Linked DNA regions of Homo sapiens. The protein of the gene in region 2 interacts with the protein of the main gene of each other region in a biochemical or structural test. Each region holds a gene or a part of one and is shown on either strand. Other genes may lie near its edges.

What was found.
Region 1: the proteins of PTPN18 (region 2) and PSTPIP1 form a complex in vitro, tested with the Homo sapiens proteins (2 studies listed by BioGRID and IntAct).

The regions. Positions count from the first base shown.
Region 1 is NC_000015.10:76,993,431-76,997,340, reverse strand, and holds the start of PSTPIP1 (proline-serine-threonine phosphatase-interacting protein 1), read right to left. Parts: upstream 2,216-3,910; 5' UTR 1,937-2,215; coding exon of another isoform or gene 1,768-1,936; coding exon 1,732-1,767; intron 1-1,731. UniProt on the Homo sapiens protein: Involved in regulation of the actin cytoskeleton. May regulate WAS actin-bundling activity. Bridges the interaction between ABL1 and PTPN18 leading to ABL1 dephosphorylation.
Region 2 is NC_000002.12:130,372,775-130,375,934, forward strand, and holds the end of PTPN18 (tyrosine-protein phosphatase non-receptor type 18), read left to right. Parts: intron 1-98; coding exon 99-173; intron 174-382; coding exon 383-450; 3' UTR 451-1,891; coding exon of another isoform or gene 1,892-1,907; 3' UTR 1,908-2,631; downstream 2,632-3,160. UniProt on the Homo sapiens protein: Differentially dephosphorylate autophosphorylated tyrosine kinases which are known to be overexpressed in tumor tissues.

The DNA.
Region 1 (3,910 bases), on a different chromosome or scaffold from region 2:
CAGTGTGAGAGGTTCCCACTGGCTACTTCTCTCCCCTTCCTGCTCTGGCCTTCCCTAGGGAAACTATATGCCCGCCCCAGGCTCAGGGAGCCAGACACAGAGGAGACAAGGCACTTGGAGGCCAGGAAGCCCAGAGGTGCGACGAGCACAGAGTGTGGGCAGGATGCCGCTCAGGAAGCTCCACAGGGGCTGGCTGCTTGCTTCTGCTGCGGCTGCCATACCCTGCTCCCTTATACGCCACCCCTACCTGTGCCCAGATCCTGCCATGGAGGCTGCTCCTTGCCCAGCTCTGCCCTAGGGAAGGCAGGCCCAGGGGCTCTAGGACTGGACAGAGGTCTCAGTGATAAAATAGTCAAGGGGTCCTGGCCTGCCCTGGGCTACAGAGTGGCCTGGGTTTCCAGGCCCTACCCCTTCCCCCAACTTTGCACACCAAGGCAGGGCAGCTAGGTGGTGACTCACATCCCCCATCCCCCAGGGCTCCAGCTGCCAGCCTGGGCCCTGAGCATCCTGGTGCCTGGTCCTCCGGATGGGCTGAGGCAGCTCTGCCTCCATTGGCTTCTCTGGGCTGGGCCCACCCTGTCTTTGTAGAGATGGGGAAACTGAGGCCCAGAAAGGCACAAGGTGCCCTCCCCACGTGGGGTCCTTTGCCTACTGTACAGTCAGAGCAGAGGAAGCAGAACACTCACACGCTGGCCACAGGCCCCAAGTGGAGCCGGCCGGAAGGGAAGGAAGGCCTGGCTCCATAGCTCTCATCCTCCTGGCTGCAGCCCCAGGAAAAGGCCCGGGGAGGGCAGGGCTGTTGGCTGGGGCTCAGCCGGCTGAGCCGAGGGCCAGAGCGTCCTCTTCGGGGTTGGAGGCAGCACCCCGGGACAGCCACATTCCCCAGCTCCAACCAGAGAGGTCTCAGTTTTTCCCCAGAGCCCTGGGCACAGCCAGAGCTGAGGGGCAGAGGGGTAGTTGAAGGACAGCTGGAAAAGTGCTGAGATGACCAGGGGTCCAAGCTGGGCTGCAGGCTACGTGGCCCGGGCCAAGCCACTTTACCTCTACCACTGGCTGGGCGCCCTTATTTCATGGGGGAAATGACTTGATTTAAGCCCGTGTTGAATTTAAGAAAGTAAGCAAGCCATTGCCCACCTGGCTGCCTCCTTGAAGGACCCCTAAGGTCTGCAAGGGACAAGGGGCTGGGTGAGGGGAACAGAATTACCATTTGGAGTGAGGCAAGGTGCTGGGGGCTTTAGTGCCTTGGATCCCCTTGCTGATCCAATGCTTTAGTTGGTGTGTTGATTTCTATTTTATCACCATTATATAGATGGAGAGACTGAGGCTTGGAGACAGAAATGACTTGCCCAGCCTGTAACAGAGCCAAGACCTGAACTCAAGTTTGTCTGGTCTCTAAATCTGTGACCCCTCCTTTGCTGCCCCACACATCCTCCTCAAGCCCCCACCCATGTGTTACCCTCTTCTGAGGAGCTCCTGCTGTGGGGAGAGGTCTCCCAGAGGAGAAAACACACGGGGCAGCAGAGAGGAGGACGCTCATTCACGGAGTCCACTTGCGTTCCAGTCCAGAAGGGGTGGGGGCCTGGGCCACCTCCATGACAATTAAGACCAAGAATCAACCACTATTTTATGAGAAAGCTCCCCTCTCGGAGCCGCATCCCATCACCTGCATGGAGATTTCAGCCTAGCTCTGCCCCCTCCACTTGTTCAGTGCCCCCAACCATCCTCACTCACCCAAAAGGCATCTTTGAACTGCAGCTGGGGCATCATCCTCAGGCGTCTGCCGCGGCAAAGCTCACTCTCCTGCCACAGGCTGGCCTGATGGAGGGCCAGGCGCCAGCAGCAGCGTCCCAGTCCTGGCAGGGCTGGCCCAGGCCCCCCTTCCCGGCCGGCGCCGTCTGCAACACTCAGAAGGCAGCCACGAGCCAGAGAGGAGCTTCTGAGGGGAGGAAAAAGCTCAACCTGTTTTGTTTGGGGCTAGAATCAGCAGCAAAATGAGGAAGGAGTGGAGCTCAGTGATGGGAGGGCGGGCCCTGGTGTCCAGCCCAGCCCCTCACCGACCCTGCGGTGATGGAGGACACAGTCTGGGACCCAGGGCAGGGAGCAGGGATGCCAGCCCTGGGTGGGAGGCAGTGGCCAGTGGAAGAGGCAGGCTGGAGCTCGGGCCGGGCCAGGCAGGCAGGCAGGCAGGCAGCCCGAGGCCTGCGCAGGAAGGTTTGTGCAACCTCCCCCGGGGCAGGCACAGGGCCCTCGCCCACAGGAAGTGGAGTTGCTGTGCTCCCCTGTGCAGCCCCGCCTGCCACCTGCCATCCTGCTCCTGCCTCTGCTTGCCCCCTCCCGAGGTGCGGGCTCACTTTATTCCAGAGGCCATATGCTAAGGGAGCTTGAGGCCCACTGACAGTGTGGCCAGGAGGGGCCCAGGAACCCCAGGTGTGTCACCCGCCAGCCAGTCCAGCACCCTTCCAGGCTGGGCCCAGAGATGCCAGACTCCCCACCCCGCACTAGCAAGTCATTCTGGAGGGGCTTACCCAGGTCTAGGGCATCTGTCATTCATCAAACCCTGGCTGCTCTGGGACCCAAACCAGGTCCTGCCCTCAAGGAGCCCATAGTCTGGGAGCAGACACAGCTGTGCTCTGGGGGGCTGTGAGCACACAGAGGCAAGGTGAGCAGGCAGCAAGATGAGGGAGAACAGCCTGAGGCCCCGGCACTGCCCCCACCACCACCACCGCCACCACCGCAAGTCTCCAGATTAGACGCTGTTTGGGGCAGAGAACCCCCTTCTGAAGATGGAGGCTTCCGGCTCAGTGAATGGGAATGGATGGAGAGAGAAACAGGATTATCAAGGCACAGAGTGGGGTGTTTGGAAACCCAGTCTGAGGCCCAGTTTTTGTTTAATTTTGACCCCACCTTTCAGGGGCTGAGGGACCTTAATAGACCCCCCAACTCGCTGAGCCTCAGCTTCCTCATCTGCCACACCCAGTCTTTGGAAAGTAGACGGTGTCGAGAATATTTCTGGAATTTCCAGTTTGGTGGGCAGGTGCTGGGGGCACTGTGTGGTACCACCTTAGGAAGAGCCCTGGACTAGAGCCCCAGCCCCAGCCCTGAGACGCCACGCCCTGCCGGCTCAGCAGAAGATGCAGCAGGAAGTCCTGAGCCCAGGGCAGGCTGGCAAAATGGGGTGAGTCAGGGATTGTCCGCAAATCACCACCCTCACTGATGTCTGCCTTACAGCTGACGGGGTGATAAGATGAGAGCTGCTGCAGATGAAATAGTTGAGCTCCCAAGTGCCCATTATGCATGCCCAGGGTTTAGAGAGAGGGGGCACACCCAGGCTCTGAAATAGCCACCCAAGAGGAAACACTTTGGGGAGGATTGCAGAGCAATGGGACTGCCCCCAGAAGGCCCTCACCTCCAGAAACCTTGGATTTGAGCTAATCTTTAATCTGTAAGGCGCCCCAGTCAGGTTTTTTGTTACTTGCAGCTGAAGACAATTAATAGTGTAAAAATCCCCTTGAACTTTGTAGGCCATAGAGTGAGCCAGGCTGCACCTCACCTCCCAATGGCACCACCACCTCTGATAGCACTGGCTCAGCCTCCCTGAGCTCAGTTTCTCCATCCATCAGATGGGATGATGCCTCTAGGTCTGGAGCAGACTAGAGACCCTCTGTTAACAGAAGGCTCCTGCCTGCTTATTGGCAGAAATTTTTACAGCTGGGCTCCCTGCCCTGCCTCTCTAGGTGTCCTTCCCATCACCTCCCAGAGACTTCTGCTCCAGCCAGGCCTCTTCCCTCTCCCTGGAGGCACCTTTCCCACTCCCACCTGCTCTGTTCCCAGCCTCCCTTCTGGCAAGCCTTCCTTGATCTTCCTTACCTGGGCAAATCCTCCCACCCTCAAAGCCAACCTCAAGGCTCCC
Region 2 (3,160 bases):
CCCCTTCGGGCCTCCGGGGAAGCGTCCCCGCTAGGGGTGGGGTCTTGGGACTCCCTGGGGCTTCCGGAGCTGACCCGTGGGGGGTCTGCTGCCCTCAGTTCCTGCTGACCAAAGTCCTGCCGGATCTGGCGCCTACGAGGACGTGGCGGGTGGAGCTCAGACCGGTGGGCTAGGTAAGTCAGGTAGAGCCTGGGTTGCTGGGACTTTGCTGCTTTGAGTGAACCCAGGAGTCTGGGGTTGATGGGGCATGGAGCTTAGTCCTGTGGATGTGGCTGCAGTGAACCAGGAGGACCTGGAGGCGGGGGGATGGCCTTCTTCATGTCTGCCAGCTTCCACACACCTCAGCTTCTCCATGAGACCCACGGCACCCTTCTTCTCCCAGGTTTCAACCTGCGCATTGGGAGGCCGAAGGGTCCCCGGGACCCGCCTGCTGAGTGGACCCGGGTGTAAGTCTAACGCCAGTTCCTGCCTGTTGCCTCTTGTGAGCTCGGACTGCTGATGCCCCGGTGCTGCTGAGCGCCGTGCGCAGAATGGAAACAGTGGGCCTGGATCAAAGTTAAAGTTTCTCAGGGTGGGAAATGTGGGGGCTTTGCCCCAATGACTGTAGCATTCAAGGCTTGAGGCTGGAGGAGGTAGCTAGGGTATAGTGGCTGGTGAGGCTGCACAGAGCAGATTCAAGAAAGAAGATCAGGAAGGGGCATGACCCCTGAGTTATGAAGGGGAGAAGGGACAGATGAGCTTCCGGAGACTGCTCTCCTCACCACACAGCACTAGTCCATCCTCAGCACCTGAGCCTCCCTCACTTGGACACTCAGGGGACCACACAGAGAAGTGGATGGACACTTCGCCATCCAGGCAGAACTAAGCCAGGCATAACCACAGCCAAGCAGATTAACCCCAGGCAGACCGATAAAAAGACCTCCAGATAGGCAGACAGACAGATGGACCACCAACCTGGACAGACAGCCAAAGCTTCAGAGATACAGTCCACAGGTGGACAAAGGGATCCCCAGCCAGAGAGAGAGAGACCAGCCAACAGCTTGATAGACCAGTGCAGCCAGAGAGACCACCAAACAGAGCCCCCAAAAGACAGACATCTCTGCTAGCTGGACAGCCAGGTGGACCCCCTAAGTTAGATTACTAGACAGATATAAACAGATCCCCTGCTGAACAGATACACAGAGTTCTCAGACCCCACCCCCACCCTCAGGTGGGCTGGCTGGCTGACAGACCTTCTGGCCAGACAGACTCCTAACCAACCAGATGGACTGCCAGACAGGCAGACATCAGCCACATGGAATCCTGACATCCCAGCCAGCCGGCCAGACTCTCATCTTGATGTCTTGATGGATGGACCCCAGCTAGTCAGACATGATCCTCCAGATTGACAGACAAGTCCCCCAAATGAGTACACATCTCCAGCTATTCAGACAGATGGACCCCCAGCAAATCAGGACCTATCTAGGCAGACCCCAGCCAGACCCCCGCCAGACAGACTCCCAACCAGACTGACCCCTTACTATTCACACAGCCTGCCGAGTAGCTGGGACTACAGGTCTAATTTTTTTTTTTTTTAAGAAATGAGTTTTTGCCATGTTGCCCAGACTGGTCTTGAACTCCCAACCTCAAGCAATCCTCCTGCCTCAGCCTCCCAAAGTGCTGAGATTACAGGTGTGAGCCACCAGGCTCAGCCCCCTAAGATTTGAAACACTTTAAATGGCCCATGGTAGGGTTCCTGCTAGGATAAAACATTAAGCGGCTGTTAAAAGAAATAAAAGGAGGACACGTCTCTGTGCACTGGTGTGGACAAATCTCCAAGTCACTGCAAAATGGAAAAAGTATAAGATGCTCTTTCCCTGAACCTCAAGGGTCCCGCCCCTCTCACTTTCAGGTCTCTGGACCTCTGACTGACACTGTGCCTGCCCAGGTCCCTGTATGCACTGCCACAGTGCCCTGGGCCCCATGTCCACCCCTGTCCTGCCCTTCTCTGGGATAGGGCTGGCCTTCCTCTGCCTCTGCCTGGCTGCATCCATGGTCGATCTCAAGTGCCTTGGCATGAACTCCACTCTCCTGCAGCCTTCAATCAAGGAATGATGGGGATGTGTACATACCCCACCCCACCCCTTGGCAGGGTGATGCTGAGGTGTGGATTTTTAACAGTTCCCAGACTTTCCCAGGAGGCTTGGGTTTGGGTGCCCACAGTGGGAGCTGGTGTGATATCATACCTTCGCCGGCCGCCTTTCCTTCCTGTTCTCTGTGCCCCTACTCCCACTCTAGAGCTGCCCCGTTTCTCTGTTTTCGTGAAAGAGCTGACCCTGTGCTGCCTCCCACTCTCCCAATGCCCCTGCCACTCCTGTGAGCCTGCTGCTGGTGAGGTCGGTGCTGACCTCTGTGTTGCTGGATAATGAGTCATCTATCTCTGGAGGAGAAGAAAGGCAGGTCCTCCACAGCCCTGATAAAATCTCCAAGTCTCCCAGTTTCGGGTCCCTCTCCTGGGATGCAGACCCACTGCCTGCCCAGCTGGTACGATCCACATGCCCTCTTCTTGGGAATAGGGGCATGGGAAAGTGACTAAAGATACTGTTCTGGCTGCTGTGTTCACTGTGAGTAATAAACTGTCCATTTCTCCGATTCAGAGGTCTGTTTTTCCTTTTTTTCTTCCCCAAAGATGGAGTCTTGCTCTGTCGCCCAGGCTGGAGTACAATGTCGCAATCTTGGCTCACTACAACCTCTGTCTCCGCCTCCCAGGTTCAAGCAATTCTTCTGCCTCAGCCTCTCAAGTAGCTGGGATTAAACGCGTGTACCACTATGCCCAGCTAATATTTGTATTTTTAGTAGAGATGGGGTTTCACCACGTTGGCAAGGCTGGTCTCGAACTCCTGACCTCGTGATCTACCTGCCCCTGCCTCACGAAGTGCTGGGATTACTGGCGTGAGTCACTGCTCCCGGCCTTGGTCTGGTGTTTTATACACATGTGCATGTGATGTGGAGCTGTGCAGGCCACCTTGTCAGCATGCGAGGAGGGTCCAGTCTCTGCGCCTTCTTGGTTTCTGACTTCACACCCAGTAGCCTCACTCCTGGCCCAGCATGGCAAGCACAGTTTCCACTCAGGCATTTGCCCTGGTTATTCTCTCTGCCTTGGATACTTTTCTCCTAGATT